Regions from separate parts of the Homo sapiens genome. Here region 1 is linked to region 2. The links come from fine-mapping of genetic effects on gene expression. A gene starts in region 2. The other region holds a variant in brackets. All regions are shown on one strand. Distances are from middle to middle.

The links. PIP is the estimated chance that this variant, and not a neighbour inherited with it, causes the effect.
Region 1: its variant is fine-mapped to the expression of NELFCD in whole blood (TOPMed, PIP 0.94).

What each region holds. Positions count from the first base shown.
Region 1 is chr20:59,009,182-59,020,554 of GRCh38, forward strand. It overlaps TUBB1 (tubulin beta 1 class VI), which reads left to right and starts at 10,248. Exons shown (of 4, transcript NM_030773.4): 1 at 10,248-10,398. The coding sequence starts at 10,342. The variant C/T (reference allele first, on the strand shown) is at 6,288.
Region 2 is chr20:58,975,286-58,986,658 of GRCh38, forward strand. NELFCD (negative elongation factor complex member C/D) reads left to right here and starts at 5,971. Exons shown (of 15, transcript NM_198976.4): 1 at 5,971-6,084; 2 at 10,808-10,923. The coding sequence starts at 6,025. RefSeq lists a silencer at 5,827-6,306 and an enhancer at 6,229-6,729.

The sequences.
Region 1 (11,373 bases), 34 kb after region 2:
TTCAGCCCAGAGCCTCTGGCAAATCAAACTCACAAACAGGGGTCAGGAGGAGGGGTGAGATGGTCAGGAAGGGGAATAAACATTCACAGTCCTGCTCCCAAATGCTGGCACAAAGCTTAATTTATCTGGGGAGTTCCAAAGAGGAGACTCTCCGGATTTACCCTATTGAAAGTTGGTTAAAGGGAAGGATATTTTTAGGCTGGTAACAAAAAGGACGTCCAAAGTTGACAACTTGTGCCCCCTGGGTTTCCCTAACATAGAAGCAATTCAAGATCAGAATCTGATGGAATAGGGCAGGAAGAGAGGGAGGGAGCCTATCCATTTGAAATCATCATTTACTTTTTCTTTTCTTTTTTTTTTTTTGGAGACAGAGTCTCGCTCTGTCACCTGGGCTGGAGTGCAATGGAGCAATATCGGCTCACTGCAACCTCCACCTCCTGGGTTCACGCAATTCTCCTGCCTCAGCCTCCTGAGTAGCTGGGATTACAGGCACACACCATCACACCTGGCTAAGTTTTTGTATTTTTAGTAGAGATAGGGTTTCACTACGTTGGCCAGACTGGTCTCGAGCTTCTGACCCCGTGATCCTGCCGCCTCGGCCTCCCAAAGTGCTGGGATTACAGGTGTGAGCCACCGCGCCTGGTCTGAAATCATCATTTTCAAGCCAAGAAGGAAGGAAGGGGGCCTGATGAGACTTATCTCTCCAGCCTCTTCTCATGGGTCCAACACAGCAAACCACGCAGAGACAGGGCTCCTCATCTCTGAACCTGGCCCTAGTCGAGTGGATGCATGTCTGGCTGCCAGACTGCTCCGAGAAGCTGGCGGGCTGTGTCATTTTGGGGGTTACTAAAATCGTGCAGCAGAGGATCCTAAATAGGATTTTTGGTTTTCTTGGTTTTGGGGTTTTTGTTGGTTGTTTTTGTTTTTCCCTTAACTCGATGCAAGATCTTAAACATGTTCCTTGTGGGGGCGGGGTTGGGGATGGCCACAAACCCACCCAAACTCAAATTCCAGTGCTGCTATTAGTGAAGGATGTTTAGCTGGAGGAGTTCTCTGAAGGGCACACAGATAAAACCAGGAGGTGTCTGGGACTGGAAAAAGAGGAGGGAGCACATTGGGAACCTGATAGACAGGCCACCCCAGCCATTTCTTGCTGGGGACTGCTTGCTGGGGGTTGAGTTTAGCCCCAGAGCTGTGTCTCTCTCTTCAAAGCAGACTCACCTGCAGAGCAGCTTGGGGACTCTTGGAAACCGGAAAGGTGTTTCCTCCTGACTTGGCTGCAGGTGCCTGCAAGGTGGTTTTGTGGATACTGACTCTTCTTCTCATCTGGGCCGGGATCCGAAGAGGCTTGGGGCAGGGCACTTGGACCTTCCTACCTCTGAGGCCCTACTTGCCTAAGCATTGCTTCTAGCAGCTCTTTATAAGCAGCTGTGTGCCACCGCCTTCCAGCTTGGGGCAGAATTGAGTAGGTATTTAGAGCAAGGCGTCTCCCCTGAAACCACTTTGCCTGGAAAGCTTGGCACCTATCCTGGGTTTTCCTTCCTGGAGGTAATGGAGTCATTCCTGCTCCCAGTGGTGCTTGAGGGCAGAGGGCTGAGCCAATGACATTCTAGAGGACTGTGCAGCCGCATTTGATCCTTTGCACAATGCTGTGAGGTGGGGGTGGGGGTTGGGAGGCAGATGCTATTACTCCATTCTACTGGCGAAAAGACTGAGCCTCTGGAGATGTCAGGTGACCTGTGCTCAGCACGAGGCTCCTGGGTGGCAGGTTCCAATCCAGTCCCTTTTTTTTTTTTTTTTTTTAACCCCATGAATTCTCCTGGAAAACACATGATCCAAGGCCACAGACACAAAAGCCTATTCATTTCTAAAAATAAGGCTGATTTTTCTCCTCATTCTGATAAAGATCAGCACTCAGGCCACGGCTGGCCCACCTTCCCAACCTGGAGGAGGAGAACACAGATGAGTTTTCATCGACTGTGGAATGGCCTCGAAATCCTTTTTCTTCTTCCTTTGTGCCATATTGTCTGGCTTCCACCCCGGCAAGCTGCAGACATTTCCTATTATTCCACATTCCTGAGTTTAGCCACATCCTGGATACCGGCATTTGTTTGGGTGGATGCCGACAATGCTCGCTAGGCTAGGCTGGTTTTGCAGGGCACGACGGTTCCCTCACCAGCTACAGGAGTTCCTCTTGATCCACTTGGTCAACGGGTCAGAGGCACTCGCTAACACCCAGATATCTCTGCAGTGCAGGCCTTCAGATAGGGCGGGCCAGGTTTGCAATCCACCATGCCACTGTCCCCAAGCACCACCATGCATCACATCCTGGCCTGGTTGTGTTATGGGAAAGGGGATCCCAACCCAGATCCCAAGAGAGGGTTCTTGGACCTCACGCAAGAAGGAATTCGGGGAAAGTCCATAAAGTGAAAGCAAGTTTATTAAGAAAGCAAAGGAATAAAAGAATAGCTCCTCCACAGGCAGAGCGGCAGCACGGGGTGCTCAGCTATTTATAGTTACTGTTACTTCTTCATTATACACTGAACAAGGAGTGGATCATTCATGAGTTTTTTGGAAAGGGGTGGGCAATTCCAGGAACTGAGGGTTCCCCCGCTTTGTAGACCATACAGGGTAACTTCCTGATGCTGCTGTGGCATCTGTAAACTGTCATGGTGCTGGTAGGAGTGTCTCTTAGCATGCTAATGCATTATAATTATCATATAATCAGCACTGAGGACAACCAGAGGTCACTTTCATCGCCATCTTGGGTTTGGTGGGTTTTGGCTGCCTTCTTTATCACATCCTTTTATCAGCAAGGTTTTTTGTTTGTTTTTGTTTTTTGAGACAGAGTTTCGCTCTTGTTACCCAGGCTGGAGGGCAATGGCACAATCTTGGCTCACTGCAACCTCTGCCTCTTGGGGTCAAGTGATTCTCCTGCCTTAGCCTCCCGAGTAGCTGGGATTACAGGTGCCTGCCACCATGCGTGGCTACTTTTTTGGCTTTTTTTAGTAGAGACGGGGTTTCACCATGTTGGCCAGGCTGGTCTTGAACTCCTGACCTCAGGCGATCCACCCGCCTCAGCCTCCCAAAGTGCTAGTATTACAGGCCTGAGCCACCGTGCCTGGCCTATTGGCAAGGTCTTGGTGACCTGTACCTTGTGCCGACCTCCTATCTCATCCTGTGATGTAGAATGTCTAACCTCCAAGGAATGCAGCCCAGGAGGTCTCAGCCTTATTTTACCCAGTCTGTATTCAAGATGGAGTCGCTCTGGTTCAAACGCCTCTGACAGTTGCACAGTGACTGGTGGTGCACACTTGCTTGGGAGTGGATGTGGCTCCTTGGGCTGACATTGATGAAGGCAGCCTCATCAGTATCACCTTTGGGACACACCCTGTGCAGCACAGCATGTAACAGACACAGCCCACCCATGAACTCACCAGGAAGTCTTTCAAAGGGGCACTCAATGACTACCCGATTGAATTTGTTTGCCCTCTAAAGTTAGGCTGTCAGCAAATATTTGTTGAGCACCTAGTACGTGCAGGCTACTGTTTTCTTCCCCGGGGATTCGGCAGTGAACAAAGTCCCTGTCTGCAAGGACTTATGTTTTCTGCATAAGGGAACATGTGGAAAAGTAAAATGCTCAGGAGGTAGGAAGTGCTTGCAAACAGTTAAAACGGGGAACAGGAGAGACGGAGGGTCTCTGGAGAAGTTTGGTCTGGGACCATTCTTTTAGGTATCCAGTGAGTTGGGATTGAATAATGACAGTCATGGAAGGTGCTGGAAGGAGACTCAGCAGAAGGAAGAGTGTCTGCAGAGGCCTGAGAATGTGAGTGCACTGGGTAAGTGTGTGATGCACTGGGGAAAGCCCTTGGGGAGGCTGCGGACAGGTGGGCTCAGCCTCCAAGCTGCAGGGACCATGCGGGCACTCAGGCCAGCTTCACACGGCCAGCCCACCTCTCCCCTTCCCTCCCCTTTCTGCCATCTGACAGAGGCTCTGCTGGCCTCCTTCATCCCCCACCTAATTTCCCTGCCCAGCGGGTTTCCCATCCCTGTCTCATGGGGCGTGTGCATTTTGGAAGATCTGAAGGCACACATCGGCCTTCCTTTTGTAAGAGGTTTGGGTTTTCTCCCGGTTGCCACTGGCTTTCCAGGAGGGCAGTGGCTGAGAGCTGATTTCTGTTTGTAAGATCCCTCTGGTGACTGTGGGAAGGATGCTGTGAGTGGAGTCAGCTGTGGGACAGGAAGGGCCCTGGAGGGGAGAGCCACAGGTGATGGATGAGGAATGCTGTTTGAGAGAAGGGGAGAGTAGATGCATCAGGACATCCACCTGGGAGCAGGACTTGCAGGATGCAGTTACAGAGTGAGGAGCAGGGGACGTGAGCACCCCGGGCTCCTGGAGCCTGCCTCTTGGCCCCTTGAATTGTACCCCTGGATGTAGGTGTCTGAGGACCTGCAATCCGTTTCTGGTTCTGCCACATTATCCTGAGACTTGAACATGTCAATTCCTCTCTGAGCCTTAGTTTCTTCTTGAAGGTGGTGGTGTCATGCAGGCTAAACGAGGGAGCATGTGGGAGACGGTGGCGGCGGCAGAGAAACTGGTAAAGACCGGCAGAGCGGGAGGCTAGTGCTGCTTTCACCCTCTAAGTCCCTGGAGGGCAGGGCCCATATTTTCTACTTTTCTGAGGTCCCTCAAAACTAATATATCCGAGATTTCTTGGACAAACACTGGGCTTGAAGAAGTACATATTTTTGTTCAATTTCAGCTCCAGGTGCTGACCCATTTTATGCTTATCTGTTCATGCCACAGAACATCGCTTATCACTAGCTGCAACTTCGGGAGACAGGAAAGATGCAAGTGAGAAGGTTCATGTGTCCATCTCTTAGATCTTCGCGCAGTTCAGGGGAAGTGGTGGTGGTGGTAGGTGTGTGTGTGCGCGCGTGTGTGTGTTATCTCCTGTAAATCAGAGTTGCCACAGCCTGCATGCTGCTCACCAGTGCACCTGGAGAGACAGCAAGATGTTTCCACCCTCTGGGCTTGGAGGCTGGACAGGTGTGAGGAGCAGCCAGAGTCTGCCTGGTACAGGAACCATGAGCATCTCAGCTGTGGGGGAAGAAGGTTAACACTCCTGGCTCAGCGAAAACCAGCAATGTCCTCCTAGTCTCTCTCCTCTTGTAGTTAGTTACTCATCCTCCTAGAACTTTCTTTTCCAGTAAGAGAACACACACCGAGCAGGGTACAAGAAAGTGGAGCTCAGCTCCTCTGGCGGGCTGCCTACACCCGCTGAGTCACCCATAATGGCCCCTCAGATGTCATTTTCTTGCTAAGACATTTGGAAAAATTTCCTGGTTCTAAATCACACGCAAACAGTATAATTCAACAATCTTCTCTGAGTTATTCAGGGAACTTCAACGCACTCAGAAGTGGAAGATCGGGGCGGATGAAATCAATGAATTCTCTGAGTGCTCTGTTTTTCTCTGAATTCTATTTCATTTGCCAAATGGAGGGTGGGGGCAGCTCCATCTGACCCCTGGGGGATAACTCCTGGGGGAAGTCTGGAAGCAGCCGATTCGGGGTTTCTGGGTGACACTGGTTTTTCTTATCTTCCCGGTTCTATTTCTGTAATAGACGCAAGTGTCATGCAGGAAAAGGCTTGCTGCTGCGGAGCCTTCTGTGGATGGCTGTGACAGGCCACTGGAGGAGAGGGTTTCAGGCTCAGGGCTGGGCTGGTCCTGGTTGGGAATCTCAGTGTTGTGGGCCATAGCGTCCTCACCACACTTGCTAGGAGGAAGCTCCTGCCCTCTGGGGCAATGCTTGCTGATCTCCTCACCTAAATGCAGGCACTGCTAACCTGCCTTGGTCACAGCCCTTTGTTGGGGGGGCAGAAAACAACTTTGTCACTCATCACAGTGGCCACTGTGAATCGCTTGCTGCAGCTCAGGACGGGGGCCGTCACCTTCAGCCTGGCAAAACAGACCTTGGGGTCGTGCCGGCATCTCCAGGGGCAGTGTTCGCCTATGTCCTGCACAGGGCCCGCTTCTACCAGTCCGAGGGCAAGGCAGACTGTATTCCCCACCTCACTGCTGGCACTAAGGTGGCAATCAGAGGAGAGCTGTTTCCTCTGGGGAGCAGGTACCTTCAGAAACAAGGACAAGAGAGCTGAGACGGGACGCACGGCTTTCCAGACCTGCTGCCTTTCCTGCCACTCTGTTCTGCCCAGACATTTTAAATTGAGACAGGCCCCGATGTCCACGGCCATGTCAAGTCTGCCACACAGTAGGTGCTCCGT[C/T]TGTAGGTGTGGAATGCATCTCCCCCTCCCACCCTGCGAAGCCCACTTGAAAAATACCACCGGCAGCCACACGTTAGGGGTCAGCCCTGGCAGGCCCAGTCCTCACACCGACTTGTGACGTGGGGACTTTTATTTCATTTTTCACGTGAAAAAGTTCAGGTCTAGGGCGGAGATGGGCCCCTGGGTGGCGGAGCTGCCACTCCGTCCCTCACCCTCTCACAGCCCAGCGTCCAAAGCTCAGCACTCGCCTGGCCTGAATTAACATGGCCGGCGATACAAGAATCAAAGCAAACAGGGCTTCTCTCTTTTTCCTCCTTTTTGCCAACTGCCCCATTAACAGAAAAACCTTTTAAGCGCCCACCTGGAAACCTGGCTTTTTCCCCTCCCTAAGCAAACTAAGATGGCCAAGAGGAATGTGCTGCAGTGCGGAGGGTGGGCGGAGGACCCCAGCAGCCTGGATCCTGCTCACATGGCAAACAGTGAACCCAGGCAGACCAGAAATGCCCCTTGGGCCCAGCCCCGTGGTCCCTGCAGCAAGGCGGTTTGTGGCCAACAGGGGCTCCTTTCAGGAGCTGGGCCACAGAAGGCCACGGCTGCCCACCGGTCACACCTTCCCGTAATAGCTCACTGCGGTTATTCCATCTATAGTCTGTCCCCAACATCCAGGTTTCTTGGAACAGTTTATATCTCCAGCCTAGACCACCTCTTATGGAATGGAGGAAAAAGGTGACCCCACCTGGAGAAGGACACACTCGTGAATAAATACATCACTGGCTTTAAGAACACAGCCCGCTCTGAGCATCACTGCTCAAACCTGCCCAGCTGTCAGTGTGCCCTTAACAAACATTTACTGAGGCCCTGCCATGGATCAGGCACTTTGGGGACTCAAAGATGAAACGACACAGGCAGCTCCCAGGCTGGCGGGAGATAAGGCATGTGTATAAGTAATTAGCAAACAGGACTGTGTGTGGGCACTGCAGGTTGAAGTGCTCTGGTCCCCAGGAGAGGAAGTGTCTCTGATGAGGGACCTGCCTGTGGGAAGATCATGGAGCTGTCTTTGATCTTCGGAGAAGTCTGGTAGGCAGGGGCCCCTGGGTGGGGAGGGAGGCTCGGGAGAGCTGGTGGGGACAGAGACAAGGGGAAAAGAGGCCAAGGCACGCCAGGAGAAAGGCTGGAAGTGAGGCAAGATGGGCTAATGTCTATGGAAACAGAATGGTCTATTCTTAATTTTAAAATGGTCTGTTTTAATTTCTGAAAAATATTGCTGGGGACCTATGAATAGGTCTGTTTTAATTTAAACAGATCATTAATAAAATGGTCTGTTTTAATTTCTGAAAAATACTGCTGAGGACCTGTGAATATCCTCCTCTTGAATTTGCACATTCTTCTCTTTACCTTTGGGCAGGGAGGAGGGGTGACTGGACCGGAAGCATCTGTGAGTCATGTGACATTCAGGTTTGAGCACAAAAAAGTTCCAAACTTAGAGAAATGTTACAAGGGTATTAATCTTGTGCTAACTTTGAAAAGAACCAGCAATTGTTACCACTTTGCCCCTTTGCTGAACTGCCCTCTCTCCGTTTATCACGTTATGTGGTTGTGGAACTGTTTCCCAGTAAGCTGCCAGCATCAAAACGACCTTGAAGCACAGTGCTTCATAATATGGGATCTCCTGGAAACAAGGACTTCCACTTAGAACCACCCTGCCATGATCAAAGTCAAGAAATGGAACACTGATACAATACTATTTTCCAGTGTACACAATCCTTATTTGAATTTTGACAATGATCCTCATACCATCCTCTATAGCAGCCCTCTTCCCTGGTCCTGGATCCAGCCCAGGATCATGGGGTGCACTGTCAGTACTCAAGGGCAGCCTGGGATCTACACACTAGACAGAGGTGAGAAGCAGTCCCAGTCCAGGCACTCTTAGGACACAGTGCTTTCTTCTTCCCCACCTCTGGGTTTCTCTTCTGGTTTATAGCTCAGGCCCTTTGGCTGTGTGTTTGAGCTCCTTTGGGAGTAAGCAGAAGCGATTTCCCCCAGACACTCCATCGTTAGGAACTTTCCTGATTGTGTTCCTGACCTCACATCCTGGGCCCCACCAGGCCTGTAGAAGGAACACAAGGTTTAGGAGTCAAGCCTGGGCTTGGGGCACAGGAAGCACAGGCCCCTCATGGACCAGGCTGGGCTCCAATGCTTCAACCAAGGTCACGGGTCTGGCGAGAGGCAGGGGAGGGAAGGACCTCCAGGGCTTCTCGCTCTGAGTTCAGTAGTCTTGCCTGTCCTGAGTCCCTGTCCTGAGAGATGGTGTCCTTGAGCTGCTCCAGAGCTAGGAGTGCTCTCTTCCTAAGTAAGCCAGAGTTCCAAGAGTGCAGGATCTGGCCACATCTACCTCCTTCATTCCCTTGTCTGCAGCGCCCAAGGTGAGCCCAGCCTATGACAGGTCCCCGTCCATAGCTGTTCAAAGAATGGGGGCAACCTCAGGGTGCCCGGCAGACGTTAAAGAGAGGCCTCAAGAGGTGGTTGCTCACCGGATGGTGGTTGTCCACATCCTCGGGGCTTCAGGAGTGAGGCCTTGCCCTGTACCTGCCCACCTGCACCTCGACAGCTCAACAGGCACAAGGCAGCGTCCACTGGCTCTCCCCTTCCGAGCCAGGGCTCTCACGCCTTCTCAGGGAGTCCCTTCCCCATCTTCCTTGGAAGCTTCCACCTTCTGTCCTCCAGGCGGTGGGGAACTGCCACCCTCCTGGGCAAGGATATGGAGCTGGTGTTTGGCCTGGATGCCCTTGCCTGGTTGGAGGTAATAAAGCCTAGGGCTGGCTTTCGACGATGATAGAAACTTGGTGGCAGGGGAGGTACTGAGGACCAGGAGACAGAACAGCTGCTTTCAAGCTGCTGAGTACCCAGCCTGCTGCCACTCCTGTACACCGCATGAGGGAATGCTTTTTTTTTTTTTTCTGACAGAGTCTTGTTTTGTCGCCCAGGCTGGAGTGCAGTGGCATGATCTCGGCTCACTACAACCTCCGCCTCTCAGGTTCAAGCGATTCTCCTGCCGCAGTCTCCCGAGTAGCTGAGACTACATGTGTGTGCCACCACACCTGACTAATATTTGTATTTTTAGTAAGAGATGGGGTTTCGCCATGTTGGCCAGGCTAGTCTTGAACTCCTGACTTCTGGTGATCTGCCCACCTTGGCCTCTCAAAGTGCTGGGATTACAGGAGTGAGCCACCACACCCGGCTCTAAGGGAATACAATTGGGAGTCCGTTTTGCTCTTGGAGAATTCAGGGTCTGGTAAAGGGACCCTATGGCAAACATTAAGACCCCAGACACCATGAGCTGAGATGGGACGACAGAGCAGGGGCTGGGAAGGGTGCTGGGGCACAGCCCAGCCCTGGCATGGATAGGGCAGGGGTCCAAGAGACCTGCAGGACACTGCAGAGTAACTTGCATACAGGGCGAGAGAGGGCATGTGGGGGAGGGCGGGCAGACAGTGCCTGATGCAGGCCATCCCGGGACCTGGGACCTGCGAGGCCCAGTTGTGGAGCCTCCTGCTGTGGCGGGGCACGGGGCTTCTGGGGACCAAAGTCTGGAAAAGGGGCCGGGAAGATGGACAGGGAAAGCCCTTGGAGGTGGTCTGGTTACCTGGGTGAGCTAGGAGCCACAGTCATCATACCACGGTCACTAGGGCCAGCATGGTCACCTAGAAGCCTGCAAACAGTGCCAGCCTCCAGGCCCTGTGCCCCGAGGTGGCCTTTAATCTTGCACTCACTCTCTAGGAAATGATGGGGCAGTATTCTGTGTTGAGGGAGGAAAAACACTCCCTTCCAAAAGCATGACAGGCAGAAAGCAGAGAAGGGCCAGGACTGGCTGAGGGCGGGGAGCTGGGCCTCTGGGGTGGACACACCCTTGGTCACATTGTGAGGGTAGCTTGGTTGGCCAGTCCCACCACTGCAGTGACCACAGTTGTGTTGGGCTCACACCAGTGAACCGAAGCTCTGGATTCTGAGAGTCTGAGGATTCCGTGAAGATCTCAGACTTGGGCTCAGAGCAAGGATGCGTGAAATTGTCCATATTCAGATTGGCCAGTGTGGCAACCAGATCGGAGCCAAGGTAAGTAATGTCTGGTTACTAATCCTAGCTTTACCACAGTCCATAGAGGCGGACAACCAAAAAAATACCCTAAGTTAGCAGGGAAGACAATAAGTCTAGCAGATTTAATGTACTTGCTAAATATCAGACAATGCCTTTGGGCTTTAATTCTTAAAAAAAAATTTCACATGGGAAAAGAAGGAAACAATCTTTAACTAAAGAGCTACAACACACATTAAGTGCTTAGAGTGTTAATTTAATTAATGTTAATTTTATCCATAGATACATATGTACAATACATGCCGACCATTATATTACATAATACGTTTATCATCTTTTTCTTTGCCCACTCTGTTGCCCAGGCTGGAGTAGAGTGGCAGAATCATGGCTCACTATAGCCTCAACCTCCTGGGCTCAAGCTATTCTCCTGCCTCAGCCTCCTGAGTAGCTGGGATTACAGGCATGCACCACTATGCCTGGCTAATTTTTAAATTTTTTTTTGAGAGACAGGGATCTCACTTTGTTGCTCAGGCTGGTCTTGAACTCATGGGCTCAAGTGATCCTTCTGCCTCAGGCTTCCAAAGTGGTGAGATGACAGGTGTAGGCCACCGTGCCTGGCACTTTTATCATCTTTTATTTTTTTGAGATGGAGTGTCACTCTTGTTGCCCACGCTGGAGTGCAATGGCGCAATCTTGGCTCACTGCAACCTCCACCTCCTGGGTTCAAGTGATTCTCCTGCCTCAGCCTCCCCAGTAGCTGGGATTACAGGCATGCGCCACCACGTCTGGCTAATTTTGTATTTTTAGTAGAGATGGGGTTTCACCATGTTGGTCAGGCTGGTCTCGAACTCCTGACCTCAGGTGATGTGCCCGCCTGGGCCTCCCGAAGTGCTGGGATTATAGGCGTGAGCCACTGTACCTGGCCCACTTTTATCTTAACAATGAACTTTTCATATCTAAAAACAGTAATTTGTCTCAAAACAGCTTTTTGAAGTT
Region 2 (11,373 bases):
TTACGTATTTTTTAAAAGGCAAGAGAAGAACTAGAGTCTCTTTAGTCTCTTTACAGACTTTAATATTTACCATTTCTGATATTCTTCATCTCTTGTGAATTGAAGTTACTATCTAGAGTAACTTTCAGCTTGAAGAATTTCCTTTAGTGTTTCTTGTAAGGCAGGTCATTAGCAACAAATGCTTTCAGTTTTTATCTGGGAATGTATTTATTTTACCTTTATTTTGATATTGCTGGATATAAAATTCTTGGTTGACAGTTTGCTTTATTCAAACATTTGGAATATGTCCTTCCACTACCTTTAGCTTCCATTTTTTTTCTGATGAGCAGTCAAGTCATTAATCACATTTCCCTTGTTGCTTTCAAGAATAAGAAAATACACAGGCCAAAATATCACAGATTTACACTGTTCTTACTTAAAGTTTAGTAATTTTAATTAATAAATGCTTCTCCGTTTGCTGTATGCCTTTGGTCTATTATTTCCAGAGGCCTGCAATGGTTATTTTTGACAGTTTTGTCCAGTATCATTGTGGCATTTAAGGGGCAAGATTTGTTGACCTCACTCCGTTGTCATGTCAGACATGAGAAAATGGTTTGTTGGGTTTTTTTTTTTTTTCAGATGAAATGAGAGGTCACTGAGATGTATTAAGCGGAGAAGGGAAATAATCTGTTTGTGTTTTAAAAGACTGCTTTAGACACTCATATTAGTTAATTATTGCTGCACAAAAAATTACCCCAAATTGATTTACTTACAACAACGCACATTTATTATGTCATAGTTTCTGTAGGAATTTTGCAAGCAGTTTAGCTGGATGGTTCTGACTCAGGGTCTCTCATGAAGTTGCAAGTGGTATGTCAGCTGGGACTTGACTGAAAGTGGAGAATCCACCTCCAAGCCCACTTACTTAGCTGCTGTAGGAGCCCTCAGTTCCTCACTATGGGTTTCTCCATGGGCCTGTTCACAGTGTGGCATCTGGCCTCCTCCAAAGTGAGTGATCTGAGAGAGTGTGGCCAAAATGGAAGTCCCAGTGTCTTCTTATGACCTAGTCCATGAAGTCCCCCACTGTCACTGCCTTATTCATTAGAAGTGAATCACTAAGTTCAGCTCACACACAAGAGGAAAGACATTAAGCTCCGCCTCTTGAAGAGAGGAGTATAAAAAAAGTTGTGGATACATTTTGTAAACCATCACACTGCTGTTTGGAGAATGGACTGTAATAGAGAACAGAAAGATGAGTCAGATCAGTCTGTGGCTACTGCAGCCACCCAGGTGAGAGCTGGTAAGAGCCTGAACTAAGACAGTGGCATAACGATGGAGACAAGTGAATAGATTTGAAGTAGATTTTGCACGTGGATCTGATGCAGAATTTGCCTTGGGTTGAATAGGAATCATGGGGGAACAGAAGTTACAAATGATTTCCAGGTGTCTGGTATTTGTAACTAAGGACGTGGTGGCCCCATGTCCTCTCTCTCTCCCTTACTCTCTCTCTCTCTGGCCTGCCCTTTCTTTCTCCCTTTCTCTCTCTCTCTCTGGTCTGGCCTCTCTCTCTCTCCCCTTACTGTCTCTCTCTCTCCTTTTGATGTCTGCACTCCAGCCATTTTCTTTACTGTCATTTCTTATTTTCTCCACTGTACCCTATTCTCTTTGTCCTCCAGATTGAAGTCACAAGTCTCAGCTTAAACATAATTTCCCTGGAAAGGACTTCTTGACCTCTTTCTGAGGTCGCTGCATTTTTTAAAAAAAATTGTTAGAGATAGCTTCTCTTTTCTCCTTTTTTGCCATTAGCACCAGATGAATTGTGTCTCTGATTCAGCTATATCCCAGCACCTGACACCTAGTAGGCACTCAGTAAGTATTTCCTCAATGGATTAAGTGAAACCAACTTCTAATTTTCATAAAAATTCTCCACCAGAATTCTTCTTTTTCTTCTTTTTTTTTGGTGGGGGTCAGGGGACAGAGTCTTGCTCTGTCACCCAGGCTGGAGTACAGTGGTGTGATCTCACTTCACTGCAACCTCTGCCTCCCAAGTTCAAGCGATTCTCCTGCCTCAGCCTCCCAAGTAGCTGGGACTACAGGCACCCGCCACCACACCTGGCTAATTTTTGTATTTTTAGAAGAGACGGGGTTTCACCATGTTGGCCAGGCTGGTCTCAAACTCCTGACCTCAAGTGATCTGCCTGTGTTGGCCTCCCAAAGTGCTGGGATTATAGGTATGAGCCACCGCACCCGGCCCAGAATTCTTCTTAAACAGGAAAATGACTTTAGAACTTAAATGACTTTAGGAGTATTTAAGCAATGCAAGCTAATCTGGACAATCTAGACAAGGCTTTGGAAAAAACAACAGATCCACAATATCTCAGGAGGCAAGACCTATAGACCCAACTACTTTTTTTTTTTTTTTTTTTTTTGAGACAGAGTTTCGCTCTGTCACCCAGGCTGGAGTGCAGTGGCATGATCTCGGCTCACTGCAAGCTCCACCTCCCAGGTTCACACTATTCTCCTGCCTCAGCCTCCTGAGTAGCTGGGACTACAGGCGCCTGCCACCATGCCCGGCTAATTTTTTTGTATTTTTAGTAGAGACGGGGTTTCACCGTGTTAGCCAGGATGGTCTCGATCTCCTGACCTCGTGATCCACCCGCCTCGGCCTCCCAAAGTGCTGGGATTACGGGCCTGAGCCACTGCGCCCGGCTGACCCAATTACTTTTAAATCATTGTGACTTATAGGCTGAATGTAATGGTTTCATTACGGGTTGTTAATCCATTTAACAATAAATGGATTAACCAACCTGTTGGTTGAAGGAGAAGTGAGCTGAATAATCCCCAATTCCGTAGGCACAATTAGTTATACATACATTAATTGGTCCGCTTTCAATTCTGGCACTATTTTTTAAAAAATCTAAGAGGAGAGGTAGGAGGAGTTTAACAGCCATCTATTCTTTCCAACATTTTGAGAAAGCAAGTGAAAATGAACCCTGAAACAAGCCAACAGCAGGGGCACTCATTAACTTAATACACTTTAATCTTGTGAATAGAAGCTGGAGCTGGATCCTTTGAATCGGAGCTGCAGACTTCCACCTCCAACCACCTGCAGGACATCTCCGCATGGGTGTTCTGTTGGCACCTCTAACTCAGCACAACCCAATGAACTCATTATCATCCCATGGAGAAACCTGCCCTCCTCCTGGGTTCCCTGTCTCAGCCATGGGCCATCCCCAGGCACACAAGCTGGGGGTCACAGCAGCATCTTCCCTGCCCCTGTTCCTGGCCCCCATCTCCCACCCCCAAGGCTGTTGTATCCTCTGGACTTGACCCCAACTTCACAGCAGTTAGCCACAGCTCCTTCTCAGCAACCCCCTCCATTAATGCTCACGGAAGCTTCTTAATTTACATTCTCACCTTCTCACTTCCTTCTGTAAGGCCCCCTCAGCTAGGAGAAATGCCTTTGAAAATTCAGATATGTCCTTTCACCCGCTCAGAGCAAGAAAAAAAAAATCCAAACGTTTCATCTTCCTCATAATGATGCATACTTGCTGAGCACCTACCATGTGCAAGCTCTCTGCTCAGTGCTTGGCATACCTCATTACATTCAATCCTTAGAGATGGCCCTCAGTTAATACAGACCTAACTCCCTCCCAAGATCTGGCCCTCCCTGCCTTGCCCACCTCATCTAGATTTCTCCTTGGCCTGCCAGGTGCCGCTCTCAGTGGCCTTTCTGTTCCAAGTACGCATGCCTGGCCTTTGCCCTGGCAGTTCTGCTCTCTGGAAATGCTCTTGCCTGGGTCTTAGCTAGCTTGCCCCTTTCATGACATGACTCAGTTCAAATGTAAGCTGCTCAGCAGCCATCTCTGATCTCCCCAAGAAGATTCTATTATCACAGAATACTAGCACTGATCACCTTCTGTCTTTATCTTATTTGTTCCCCCCACCCCCTCCCCCCATTCAGCTCCTTCAGTAGAATGTAGGCTCTACCCGGACAAGGATCAGGTCCAACTTGTTCACCGAGCTCCAGGGAGCAGCGCAGTGCTGGGCACTTAGGGAACACTCAATAAACATTTGTTGAATAAATGAAGACATATTCCCTGATAAGTTCTCCAAAAGTAGTCACTATTATCAATCTTCTGGAGCTCTTTTCTCTAATACTCTTTCCTTACTGACATGGGCATTACCTTTCTTTTTTTTCTTTATAGACAGGGTCTCACTTTGTCACACAGGCTGAAATGCAATGGCACGACCATAGCAAACTGTAACCTCAAACTCCTGGGCTGAAGCAATCCTCCTGCCTCAGCCTCCCGAGCAGCTAGGACTACAGGCGTGCATCACCATACCTGGCTGGGGGCGGGGGAAGGGGGGGGGCGGTGTCTCGCTATGTTGCCCAGGTTGGTCTCAAACTCTTGCCTCAAGCAATCCTCCCACCTTGGCCTCCCAAAGTGCTGGGATTACAGGTGTGAGCCGCGGCGCTCAGCCACGGGCGTTACCTTTCAAAGCATCCAGATTTTATGGCGTTAATCTCCCTGTTTAAAATTTTCTGTGATTTGGACACAAAGATGGGAACAACAGACATGGGGTATTCCAAAAGGCAGAAGGTGTGGAGGGGGGTAAAGGCTGAAAAAGTTGCCGAAAGGATTAGAAGCATCACGCAATATACCAATGTAACAAACCTGCACACGCACCGAATCTAAAATTAAAACAAAACAAAAACACAACAACCAAACAAAAACCTTTCCGTGATCATCAGGAGGCTGTCATATTCTCACCCCCTACTTCACGCTGGGAATCGAGCTGCGGGCTTTACAACAGCGTCAGCTGCTCCCTTTGGCAACGACCAGAGAGGTCCTTTCTCCAGAGATTTTTGTCAGCTCTGGGCACTTTTGCTTTGTGGGCCTATCTTCCACTTTATAAAAAATTAAAAATGCTACTTTCCACTGCATTCAGTACTTTTTCTTCTCTTTTCTTTTTTCTTTTCTTTTCTTTCTTTCTTCTTTCTTTCTTTTTCTTTTTCTTTTTTTTTTTTTTTTTGACACAGTTTCACTCTGTTGCCTAGGCTGGAGTGCGGTGGTGTGATCTTGGCTCACTGCAACCTCCACCTCCTGGGTTCAAGCGGTTCTCGTGACTCAGCCTCTTGAGTAGCTGAGACTACAGGCGCCCGCCACCATGCCCAGCTAATTTTTGTGTTATTAGTAGAGAAGGGGTTTTACCATGTTGACCAGGCTGGTCTCGAACTCCTGACCTCAGGTGATCCGCCCGCCTCGGCCTCCCAAAGTGTTGGGATTACAGGCGTGAGCCACCGTGCCCTGCCCTTTTTATGTATGTATTTATTTATTTGAGATAGGGTCTCGCTCTGTCGCTCAGGCTGGAGTGCAATGGTGCGATCTTGGCTCACTGCAACCTCCGCCTCCCGGGTTCAAGCGATTCTCCTGCCTCAGTCACCCGAGTACCTGGGATTACAGGCGCATGCCACCACGCCCGGCTAATTTTTGTATTTTGAGCAGAGACGGGGTTTCACCATGTTGGCCAGACTGGCCTCGAACTCCTGACCTCAAGTGATCCGTCAGCCTCGGTCTCCCAAAGTGCTGGGATTACAGGCGTGAGCCCCCACGCCCGGTCGCGTTTAGTACTTTTTACCAAAACTAAAAGAAATTAAAACACTTTCGTGGGTCCTGGACACTTCCGGAAGGATTTGTTTCCAGCTGCCAGATGAGGAAACTGGGGCTCGCAGAGCCGGCGCCGCAGGGGAGGGGCTGTGCACGAATCCAGTGGGAAACCTCTCTCCGGAGCTAAGCCCCTGGTCCACCCGGGCATCGCTCCGGGATCGACTGGGGGCGTTCCTTCCGCCGGTCCCCTTTGTTCCCAGTGCCGAGCCCGCGGCCCTGCCCTTCCTCCAGGCCCCGCCCCTTCTTCCAGGCCCCGCCTCCCGCCCGGGCCGAGGCGCGCGGCCGCGCGTGCGCCCGCCCGCCCGTCCCCGCCTCGCGCATGCGCCGCGCTCGCTCGCGGGAGGGCATGGCGGGGGCCGTGCCGGGCGCCATCATGGACGAGGACTACTACGGGAGCGCGGCCGAGTGGGGCGACGAGGCTGACGGCGGCCAGGTGAGGCGGGGCACTGGGCGCACCCTAGAGAGAATCGTTCGTCTCCGCCGCCGGCGGGCCGGCCCCACTCCCGGAGAGGCCGCGCGGCGCGAGGCTGCGGGCGTGCGGGGGGTGTGCGCGCGCACGGCCCGCGCGGTCACCGTGTGGTTCAAGCACAGCCCGCCCCGCCCCCGCCCGCCCGGGGTCCCGCGGCGCGGCCGCCGGGGTCCCCGCCTCCTCGCCTGCAGGACCTTGGGGTGGGGGTGAGGCGCCGGAGGCTCTGGCGCGGGGCGGCCCGAGGCCCCCAGTACCCCCTCGCTCCGGCCAGGCCCGGCGCCGGCCCTGCGACCCCCGCGGCGGGCGGGACACCAACGCTAAGGTGGAGGGTTGGGTCCGGAGCTCACAGACTTTTAAACAAAAATAAAGTGGAAAAACTTCACAGCAGCATCATGAGGAAAAAGTAGAACTTAGGGCATTCCTACATGTGCTTTACTGTTTTATAAACTGTACTCTTCAGCACCTTGGGCTGATTTCATCTGTTTTTGGGCAAACTGATGGAAAGGATTTTCGGGCCTTGACCTTCCAGGGTTTGGGGTGGAAGCCCAGGAGGGATCACTGTTCCACCCTGAGGACAGGGACTGCAGAGCCAGGGCAGGTAGCTCTAGTCTGGACAGTGTGTCCCCACCTTACTCTAAAGACCCAACTGAGGCGCATGATTGAAATGTAGCTTCTCACGTCCCTCCCCTGGAGACGGCCCAACAGTTGGTCTGGACGGGAGCCTGGGAACTTGCATTTTTTTTTTTTTTTTTTTTTTTTTTTTTTTTTGTGGTGGAGTTTCGCTCTTGTTGCCCAGGCTGGAGTGTAATGGCGCCATCGCGGCTCACTGCAACGTCTGCCTCTCGGATTCAAGCGATTCTCCTGCCTCAGCCTCCCGAATAGCTGGGATTACAGGCACCCACCACCATGCCCAGCTAATTTTTAAAATTTTGAGTAGAGAGGGGGTTTCACCTTGTTGGCCAGGCTGGTCTCAAACTCTTGACCTCAGGTGATCCACCCACCTCTGCCTCCCAAAGTACTGGGATTACAGGCGTGAGCCACTGCTCGTGGCCCAGGAACTTGCATTTTTAACAACAATCAAGATTGGGGATGTCTGGTGCATTTTGAAGTGGTATTATAAGGGAATAAAGGATGAAGTGGGGCTTACGTTGATAAACATGGGTGGTGGTGTGATGGCGGCTTCGGAGCCATGGTCTAAAATGCCAAGGCGGGCGATGTGTTTCTGGAACTGAAAGAAGCCCTGTGATGTTAGCTGCCTGGTGGAAGCAGTGGCAGGAGGTCAGTAGGGAGCAGGTTCTGAAGATCCTTGGAGAGCTGCTGAATGGTATGGCTTGTTCAGGAGTTTGGGGCAGGGAGTGACACGAGTAGATTTGCATGTTGGATCATTTCACAGTGTTGGAGGCTTAGGGTGGAGTGGATAGAGTCAGACTTAGCTAACTGAGAGCTTGGGCCATGTGTGTCATGCGTTATCCCCTTCCACACACAGGATTTTGAGTTGGGTGTTACCCTACTTATCTGGTAAGTGTAGAAAATGAGACGAAAAGACTTACTGACCTGCCCAAGGTCATGAAACTAATAAAGGAAGGAGAGGGGACCCAAACCCACATCCTTTGCCTCCGTTGCCACTTCGTCAAATTGCTGACTACCAAAGTGGTCCAGATGAGAAGGTGTGAATTAGCTTAGTGGTAGGTTGGTGTTTGGGGCATCTAGTATATCACCTTGAGCCTTTTTTTCTTTTTTTTTTTTTTTGAGACAGAGTCTCGCTTAGCTGCTCAGGCTGGAGTGCAGTGGCTTGATCTCAGCTCGCTGCAACTGCCATCTCCTGGGTTCAAGCAATTCTCCCGTCTCAGCCTCCTGAGTAGCTGGGATTACAGGCATCCGCCATCATGTCCGGCTAATTTTTGTATTTTAGTAGAGACAGTGTTTCACCACGTTGGCCAGGCTAGTCTTGAACTCCTGACCTCAGGTGATCCGCCTGCCCCGGCCTCCCAAAATGCTAGGATTACAGGCGTGAGCCACCGCACCCGGCCTTTTTTTTTTTTTTTTTTCTTTGAGACGGAGTCTCACTCTGTCACCCAGGCTGGAGTGCAGTGGTGCCATCTTGGCTCACTGCAACCTCCACCTCCTGGGTTCAAGTGATTCTCCAAGTAGCTGGAATTACAGGCCGGTGCCACCACACCCGGCTAATTTTTGTATTTTTAGTAGAGATGTGGTTTCACCATGTTGGCCAGGCTGGTCTCGAACTCCTGGCCTCAAGTAATCTGCCCGCCTCCGCCTCTCAAAGTGCTGAGATTACAGGTGTGAGCTACCGTGCCCGGCCTCACCTTGAGGCTTTGAGTCATAAAGTGTTAGAACTGGGGCATATAAGGGCCATCTAATCAGTACCTTCACTTTATAGACCAAGCACGTGAGTTATTTGCCCAAGTTTGTGCAGTCAGACCTAGACCCCACTGATGGGAGATTGGGGAGTCTCATGTTTGGGGAATTTTAATCATGATCCTAATTTGGCCCACTGACACCAGTGGGCTCTCATGGATGAGGGGGGTGGACCAGACGTTCATTTCATGTTTATTCTGTGACTCTGCTTGGAAGAGGTACAGAAAGTTAGGAAAGGTGTTAGGAGGGTGGCAAGAACTGGATTTTAAAAGATAGTTGGTGACCCAAATTCTGTTCGCCTGATGCCATGTTACATAGTGGGAGGTAGGAAGATGTGTAAGGAGGCCACCGTGATGTTCAGTCTGGATGGTGGAAACTAAGAGCTGCAGACATGCAAATAGATGAGTCCTGCTACAGATTGCAAATGGGGAGTGGTGAGAGGTCAGAACGGACAGGGGAAGTGGGAAGGGCACGCTCTTGCTAGAGCTGGGGCGTTTTTTCCTGAAGGAGATGGGAATCTTTAAGCAGGAGAGAGACGTCAGTTTTGTGGCTTACAAAGATCACTGTGGCCACGGTGTGAAAGATGATTGAAAGGAAGGAATAAGACTGAGACTTCAGGGGAATGTTGCTACTGCAAGCATACAAAAAATAAGGAAGAGCAGAGGCAAATGTGGAAAGAAGGACCACCTTGGATAGACAGATGGGAGATGGAACTGATGAGTCTTTGTGACAGGATGTGGGGGTGGGGTGAGGGAGAGAAGCTGAGGATGATTTTCAGGTTTGGGGGGTAACAAGTAGATATATGAAGGATACCTTTACGGAAATATGGGTTGTAGGAAGAAGATCTGTTTCTAGGGAAGAGATGTCAGTTTTGGACCTAAAGAGTTTGGATACTTGTGAGACATCTGACTGGAAATGAGAATGGAATGTTGGATACCTGAGTCTGGAGCTTAAGAGAGGAAAGACGGAGAGAGAGATCCAGGCTAATTCTAGATTGGTGAGCAGGTAGATAGCATGACCCAAGAGGTGGTGGAAGAGGCAGGTAGGTGAGTGCCCAGGGTGGAAGCCCAAGAGAACAGACAACGTGGGAATGAAGCTCGGGGTGAAGTCCGGCCTCTGTCATGCCCTTAGGGGCTCAGCGTTCCCCATGCAAATCTGGTCTGAGAGAAGACTCCACAGCTTTTACTGGGAAGTCATCGGGTTCTGTCTGCTCCCAAAGCACTGCTTTTAGGATCTTAGTCCAGATCAGGAGTGAGCAAACTTTTCTGAAAAAGGCTAGATAGCAAATATTTTAGGTTGTGCCTGTCTCTGTCTTAACTACTTACCTCTGCCCTTACAGGGGGAAAGCAATCATAGACAGTCCTTAAAAGAATGGGTGTGCTGTGTTCCGTAAAAGTTTATTTGCAAAAATAGGAGAGGGCTGGATTCGGCTCTGGGTCATAGTTTGCTGACCCCTGGCCCAGCTCTTGCCCCATTATGTTAGAGTAGGTTGCATGGAGGTCTGTCTCTCCTATTAGTTTGTGAACTTCTTTGATGGAAAAAGCCTTGTCTTGTCTTACATTTTCTTAGGTTCCTTGGTTGATGAGCATAGTGCAGACTGAATGTTCAAAAAGCATCTGCTTGTTAGTTAGGGTGGCAGTGTTAAAGTTGGACAGGGTTTGGGATCACAGTCCATCCTCACATGGTCATTAGCAGGTGAAGAAGCCTGCTTTGCCCTTAGATGGAGTGACAGGCCTGAAGTTGCTTCCACATAGAATTGGGACTGGAGTCCAGCCAGAAGTGTGGATGCAAGGCGAGTTAGTGGTCTTTACTTTCTAATGGTAAGTGATGGCTCACGCTTTCAAGAATCAGGTTGTTACTCTTCAGTGGCATGTATGAAATAAGAATAGTGAAAACAATAATAATAATAGTTTACTATTTATTGCACTGTTACGAAATGTCAGGGATTATGCTGGGTTCTTCCAAAAATTAGCTCATGGAATCCTCACAACAGCCAAATGGGAATAGGCGTTATTATTATCTTCACTTAACAGAGGAGGAAATGGACACTCAGAGAGGTTGGGTAACTTGTGTGAGCATGGAACGCGGTTTGCCAGGGAGGAGTTGTACACACCCACTCAGTGTGATCCTGGATCCCATTTTCCTAGCCACTCACTATCTGTCCAGCCCATTTCATGAAATTGTCATGAAAGTCAAATGAAATAATGTGTGTAGAATACTTTCAAAATGGGCAGCATTATACGATTTAAGGTGAGATTAGGGTATTTGTATTAATGAAAAAAATATCCTGGCTCTTCGCATTTACCAACAGCAGGAGGATGATTCTGGAGAAGGAGAGGATGATGCGGAGGTTCAGCAAGAATGCCTGCATAAATTTTCCACCCGGGATTATATCATGGAACCCTCCATCTTCAACACTCTGAAGAGGTATGTGAGAAAGGTGTCTGTATTGGGAGGAGGCTGGGGGTAATTTAGAGAAAGTTTTGTAATACACCCAGAAGGTGCTATGTAAAGCAAGAGTAACGCGAACTGAACTAAAGGCTTCAAGGGGGGGTCCCCTCTGCCACTTTTTTTTTTTTTTTAAATTTTTTTAAGACAGAGTCTTGCTCTGTTGCAGTGGCACAATCACCGCTCACTGCAGCTTCAGCCTCCTGGAATCAAGCAGTTCTCCCACCTCAGCCTTGCAAGGTGGCCACCACAGGCGTCTGCCATCATGCCTGGCTATTTTTGTTTTTGTTTTTTGGGAGAGACAGGGCTCCTTACGTTGCCCTGGCTGCTCTTGAACTCCTAGGCTCAAGTGATTCTCCCACCTCTGCCTCCCAAAGTGCTGGGATTACAGGTGTGCACCACTGCACCCAGCCCCCTCCGCTGCTTTAA